Regions from separate parts of the Homo sapiens genome. Here region 1 is linked to region 2. The links come from fine-mapping of genetic effects on gene expression. Tissue or cell type: whole blood. Region 2 holds a variant in brackets; the other region holds the start of a gene. All regions are shown on one strand. Distances are between the middles of the regions.

Region 1 (2,756 bases), 54 kb before region 2:
ACCACCTAGGCAGGTGTGAGACAAGGATCCAGGCAGCTGCTGTTAGACTCTATAGCTGTTGGATGGTTTTGGCATTCCTAAACCTCTCTACTGCTTGCAAACGTGGAAGAACTGATTTTAAAAACCCACTCCATTTGCCTCTGGGCAGTTCTTACTCACAAAGGACGGGTCGTCTTGGCCGCACAGTTGTCTGTGGGTTGCATCATTTAACAGCTGAGAAAATGCTCCTCAAGAAGTTGTGACTTGCCCAAGGTGGCAGGGCAGGGCTAGGACTAGTACTCACCCTTTCTCACTGCTCATCCAGTGCCCTTAATTCCCCACGGGCTAATGGGACAGAACCCTGTTAAATGGTATCCAGTTTTTGTTTGGTTGGTTGGTTGGGTTTTTTTGAGACAGAGTCTTGCTCTATTGCTCAGGATGGAGTGCAGTGGCTCGATCTCGGCTCACTGCAACATCCACCTCCCAGATTCAAGCGATTCTCCTGCCTCAGCTTCCCGAGTAGCTGGGATTATGGGTGCCCACCACCATACCCAGCTAATTTTTGTATTTTTAGTAGAGACGGGGTTTCATCATGTTCACCAGGCTGGTCTCAAACTCCTGACCTCAAGTGATCTGTCCACCTCGGCCTCCCAAAGTGTTGGGAGGCTGAGGCATGAGCCAGCGCGCCAGGTTTTAATTCTCAATGAGAACACTATTTTTGTTGACAATGAGACGCCCAGAAGATAGCGCCTTTCTGGGGACAGTTGAGAATTTAATAGTGCTTCCGCATTTCTAACTTTTATCCCTCCCCCCTCCCACGGACTGTTTTCCTCTATTCCACTTTTCCTCTTTCATAAGTATTTGATTGCAGGTTGGTATCCTGTATCCAAGCACAGCGCTTGGCATCGAGTAGGCGCTCAATTTTATTTGGTGAATATGAGTTGGAGGAATATTTGATGAATGAATGGAAGATGAATTAATCATCAGGGTCAGCAAGTGATGAACCACAACTTGGTCCAGTTCTTTAGTCCTCTAGTCTCCTGGTGAGACTCCACAGCTCCGCTAACACGACCGGGCCTTCGTGGGCCTGACAACAGACCTGACATCCCACGGGCGGGAGAGGCGTCAGCCCGAGGCTGGGATGCTCGGCCGGAACGGCGGCTGGCGGCAGGCTGGGCCCAGGGAGCTGCGCGCGCAACCACTCGGGCTGTGGCTCCGGTGACCGCTCTCCCTGGCAACGGTTTGTTCCTAGCAACCAGCCTGAGGTCTGGAGGTGGTGCGGAGGGAGCCGCCTAGGGACCAGGGACTCCTGCCATGAATCCGCCGGGGTCCCTAGAGGCCCTGGACCCGAACGTGGACGAGCACTTGTCCACCCAGATTCTCGCGCCCTCGGTCCACTCCGACAACTCTCAGGAGCGCATCCAGGCCCGGCGCCTCCGCATCGCTGCGCGCTTAGAAGCCCGGAGGCGGTGAGCGCGGGGGCGGGCGGGGCGGGATCCGCGCCGCAGGAGCCGGAGAAGGGCTGGTTTCCTGATGAAATAGAAACATTTCTTCGGGAAGGTTCAGGCAGAGTATGGGAAAGTAAAACGCTGGGCCGGTGCCGTGGCGCGCGCCTGTCATCCCAGCACTTAGGGAGGCCGAGGCGGGCCGATCACTGGAGCCCAGGAGTTGGAGATGGTCAACCTGGGCAGCATAGAGAGACCCCATCTCTATAAAACATCAAACAATTAATCGGGCGTGGTGGCGTTCGACTGTGGTCTGCACATGGCATCTTTTCCACTACGGACACCTCCAAACCACAGGGTCTGCTGGATCATGTGGCCCAAGTAGCCTGGCTGCTTACACTGTGGCCTGGGTCCTTTCTTGTTCCAGGCACCACTCAAAGCTGGCAGCTTTTTGTGTCAGCCTGAATAATATTCCTAAGTGCGGGATGTATTGTCTCTAGGACCCAAAGTGGCCTAAGAGGCATTGAGTTTCCTTCTCTGTAGAGGATGCAAAATGCAGTAGATTTGTTTTTTACTTGATAGGCTATCCCAGCATCCCACTGACCACTGGACCCCTACAAACTTGAATGACATGGCAGTCCCTGGGCCTTCATAGGGTTGATTGCCCACCGTCTGGAGCACACATGTCTTACCAAGCCCTGCAGTGTGTTTCCATCACTCGCTCACCCTGGCTGATTGCTGCGGGGCCATCAGTGGAATGCAGGGGCCGGCAAACCCTTTCAGTAAAGGGCCAAATAGTAAATATTTTAGGCTTTTCGGATCATATGGCCTCTTTCCTAGCTGCTCAATTGCCATTGTATTGCAAAAGCAGCCACAGGCAAGACATAAACAAATGGGCATGACTGTGTTCCAATAAAGCTTTATTTATGGACACTGAAATTTGAATTTCATATACTGTTCATGTATCACAAAATAGCCTTCTTTTGATAAAAAATAATAATAAACTTTATTTTTTAGAGCAGTTTTTAGGACCACAGCAAAACTGATCAAAAAGTATAGCATTCGCATATACTCCCTGCCCCCACACATGCACAGCTACTGTCAACATCCTGCACTGGAGGGCACATTTGTAACAATATATGAACCTTGGCGCATCGTTATCACTTGAACTCCATTGTTTACCTTAGGGTTTCTTTTTGGTGTTGTACATCCTATGGGTTTGGATAAATTTATGGTGACACGAGCCCACCAGTATAGTATTATACCAAATATTTTTACTGCCCTAAAAATCCCCTGTGCTCTGCTTATTCATCCTAGTCTTTTTTTAACCAT
Region 2 (2,719 bases):
ATCCCTTCCTCCAAGCAGAACCTCTGGGATGCCCTCTACACAGCCTTGGAGAAGTACCAGTAAGTGTGCATGTCATGGAGCAGGAGGGTGCTGGCGGGCAGGTGAGGAACGGTTGTTGGGAGCAGCCGCGTTTGCTGCCTCCCTGTCCCACTGAACCTGGGAGGGAAGAGCTGCCCTTGGCATCTCCTGTGTGGGTGGATCATGTGGGGCAGTTGGCTCTTGGGCCCTGGCCTGCCTGTTCTGTTCCTGCTAACCTGGCTCACCTGGCGGCTGGGTGAAGAGTGTAGCTTCTGGAGTCTCCCTCCACCTGTAGCCAAAGTACAACCACCAAGACCCTGGCCCCTACTTGGCAGAGGATGGAGGATTCAGTGAGCCTCTAACCGATTTTTCTGTCCAAAGCCTTGTCCTGACCCAGAGGGCCAAGCTGCTGCTGGAAAACAGTTCTCTGGAGCAGCAGAACACAGAGCTGCAGGCGCTACTGCAGCAGTATCTGAACTCCAAGGTGGGCGGCGGGGCCTTCCAAGGAGGGGCAGCGGGAGACACGGGTGGGGCAGGGGCACTGGAGCTGGGATTAGGGAACGAGGAGTCCCCTCCCCGTCAGAGGCAAGGGAGCTTTGTGATATGATGTAAAAAATCAAGAGTGGCACCTTGAGACAACTACTGGCCAAAGGAGTAGATCTTGCCTGAAGTCTCCTCCAGGACAGCTCAGGTGTGACAGTGTCTCTTTGATACTGTGGTTTCTGGTGCCAGTGGCCAGCTGGGACTGCTCTGTGTGAAGCAGTGCCACAGCCAGGAGCAGCTCCCCAGCTACAGAGCCTCCAGCTGTGCTCTCTTCTTCCATCCTCACACCCGCTGTGTGAGGTGGACAGGGCGGAAACAATGCTCCTCATTTCACACAAAGGACAATCACAACTTGCAGAGTTTGCAACTCGTCCAGAGCCTGGGCTCTTTCCACCCACCAGCCCCGGTTCCCTGCCTGGGATATGACTGGAGGGTCATCCTCGCATGGGGAAGGAGGCTCTGCTGGGGCAGATATTCCCTGGCCCCCATCTGTGCCCAACCCTGCAATAGTTGTGGACAACTTCCCCATGGCCTGGCAAGAGGAGGAAGGAAAAAGTCCATTGCTGACATTTCCTGCTCTGCGGGTGTGGGCACCTGCAGCTGGGGCTGTAGGCCAGGAAGGTCGTGACGCAGCTGTTAGTTGCACA[CGT/C]GTGAGGTGACTGAGGCCAGCTCCAAGTCCAGCCACAGGGGCTGCGTGGCCCCAGCACAGTCCCAGGTCCCAGGCCACAGCTGAAAGTGGGATGTTGTAGTGAACCTTGGCCTCATAATGACCCTTGGCCTGTGACAGGACCCAGACATTCTGGACGGTATGGTTCCCGCTTCCACAGATGCTACTGTATACAAGAGGCTGGGGGAGGAAGAGGTGGGGCAGGCTAGATTGGGGATGGCATGGGTGCGTGGAGAGAGGAGAGGGGAAGACTGCAGAGAATGGACGGGCGGGAGATGAAGAACGCTACCAGAGGTCACAGCTGGAGCAGAAGCTGAGCAAGAAGGCTCAGGCGTGTCTCCTGCAGGGAGGCAGTCTGTGGGTGTTCAGCATCTCTCAGCTTTGGAGAGGAGATGCGTGCAGGGCTTTGGAGGCCCATGGGAGAGCCAGCGTGGCTCGCAAGGGTGGCAAAGAAGGAGGGCCCTGGGAAAAATGTAACGACTTTCACCCTTTCTTTTCCAGATCAACTCTGAACTGCAAGTTCCTCCCACTCAGGTGTTGCGGGTACCCACAAAATGAGCTGGACCGCCAAAGGCTGATGTGTTAGGGCTGGCCTGATGCTGGTGTCTGTGCCGGAGCCAGCTCATATCACCCACTGGGCCGCACCTGGGCCTGCTCTCTGGATTTTCCAGGGCTGTCTTTATAGCCTGTCGAAATAAGGAGCCAGAGGAGTTACCTGTGTCCTGCATTATGATTAAAGCCTTTTAAAGTTGTGGCTGAATCTCTTTAAAGAGGTCAGGTCTAGCAAGACCAGGCCCTTGCCCCTACCTCTGTGTCATGAGGGGACTTTGCCCCAGGCTCAGATAGTGGTGTGAGTCAGAGGCCGAGGCCAGTAGCGTGGGGCTCCTTTCTTGCTTTCAGGGGAACTGGTTTCTGTGGGTGGAGGCTAGAGCTTTTGGGCCCTTGTGGGGCCTTAAGCCTTCAGACTGGCCCCAGACCTGAAGGATTCTTTCGGTGCTTTGGGGGCCCCTGGGCCCAGGCTGGTGTGCCCTTTGGGCTATGGTGTAAGACTCCTCCTGTGGGCAGCCTGGGTGGGCAGCCCTGTGCCTGAGGCCTGCCTTGAACCCTGGGCCACCAGAGGCCACTTGAAGGGGAAAGGCCATGGGAGCCCTGCTGGTACTGAATCTGCCAGCCTAGAGAACTGCTGCCTCTGCCCCGCACCTGCGGCTGCTCCTCTCAGCTTGACCAGTGCAGACCTGTCAGCTCAGTGCTTGACTTCTTTTATTTAGAGAAAAATCACCACTCAAGAAAAGAAAAACAGCCAACAGAAACCCAGACACAGGCAGGGGCAGCACTTGACGGGCCAGCTCCCAGCTGCAGCTGAAAGGGCTGGAAGGGCAAGGGGGCAGGGGTGGGAGGACAGGGTGTGCCCGGGATGGGGAGTCCCCTCTGCTGCTTCTCACAGCTCCTCAGCTGGGCCTGGAGGCGCTGGCTGGGGCAGAGGGAGCTCTG

Evidence for each region. PIP is the estimated chance that this variant, and not a neighbour inherited with it, causes the effect.
Region 1: it holds the start of DRC1, and the variant in region 2 is fine-mapped to the expression of DRC1 in whole blood (TOPMed, PIP above 0.99).

What each region holds. Positions count from the first base shown.
Region 1 is chr2:26,400,697-26,403,452 of GRCh38, forward strand. DRC1 (dynein regulatory complex subunit 1) reads left to right here and starts at 1,224. Exons shown (of 17, transcript NM_145038.5): 1 at 1,224-1,448. The coding sequence starts at 1,294.
Region 2 is chr2:26,454,732-26,457,450 of GRCh38, forward strand. DRC1 (dynein regulatory complex subunit 1) reads left to right here. Exons shown (of 17, transcript NM_145038.5): 15 at 1-59; 16 at 400-502; 17 at 1,730-1,980. The coding sequence ends at 1,786. It overlaps OTOF (otoferlin), which reads right to left. Exons shown (of 47, transcript NM_194248.3): 47 at 2,472-2,719. Among named protein-coding and RNA genes, the nearest start is that of DRC1, 54 kb to the left of the region's middle. The variant CGT/C (reference allele first, on the strand shown) is at 1,209.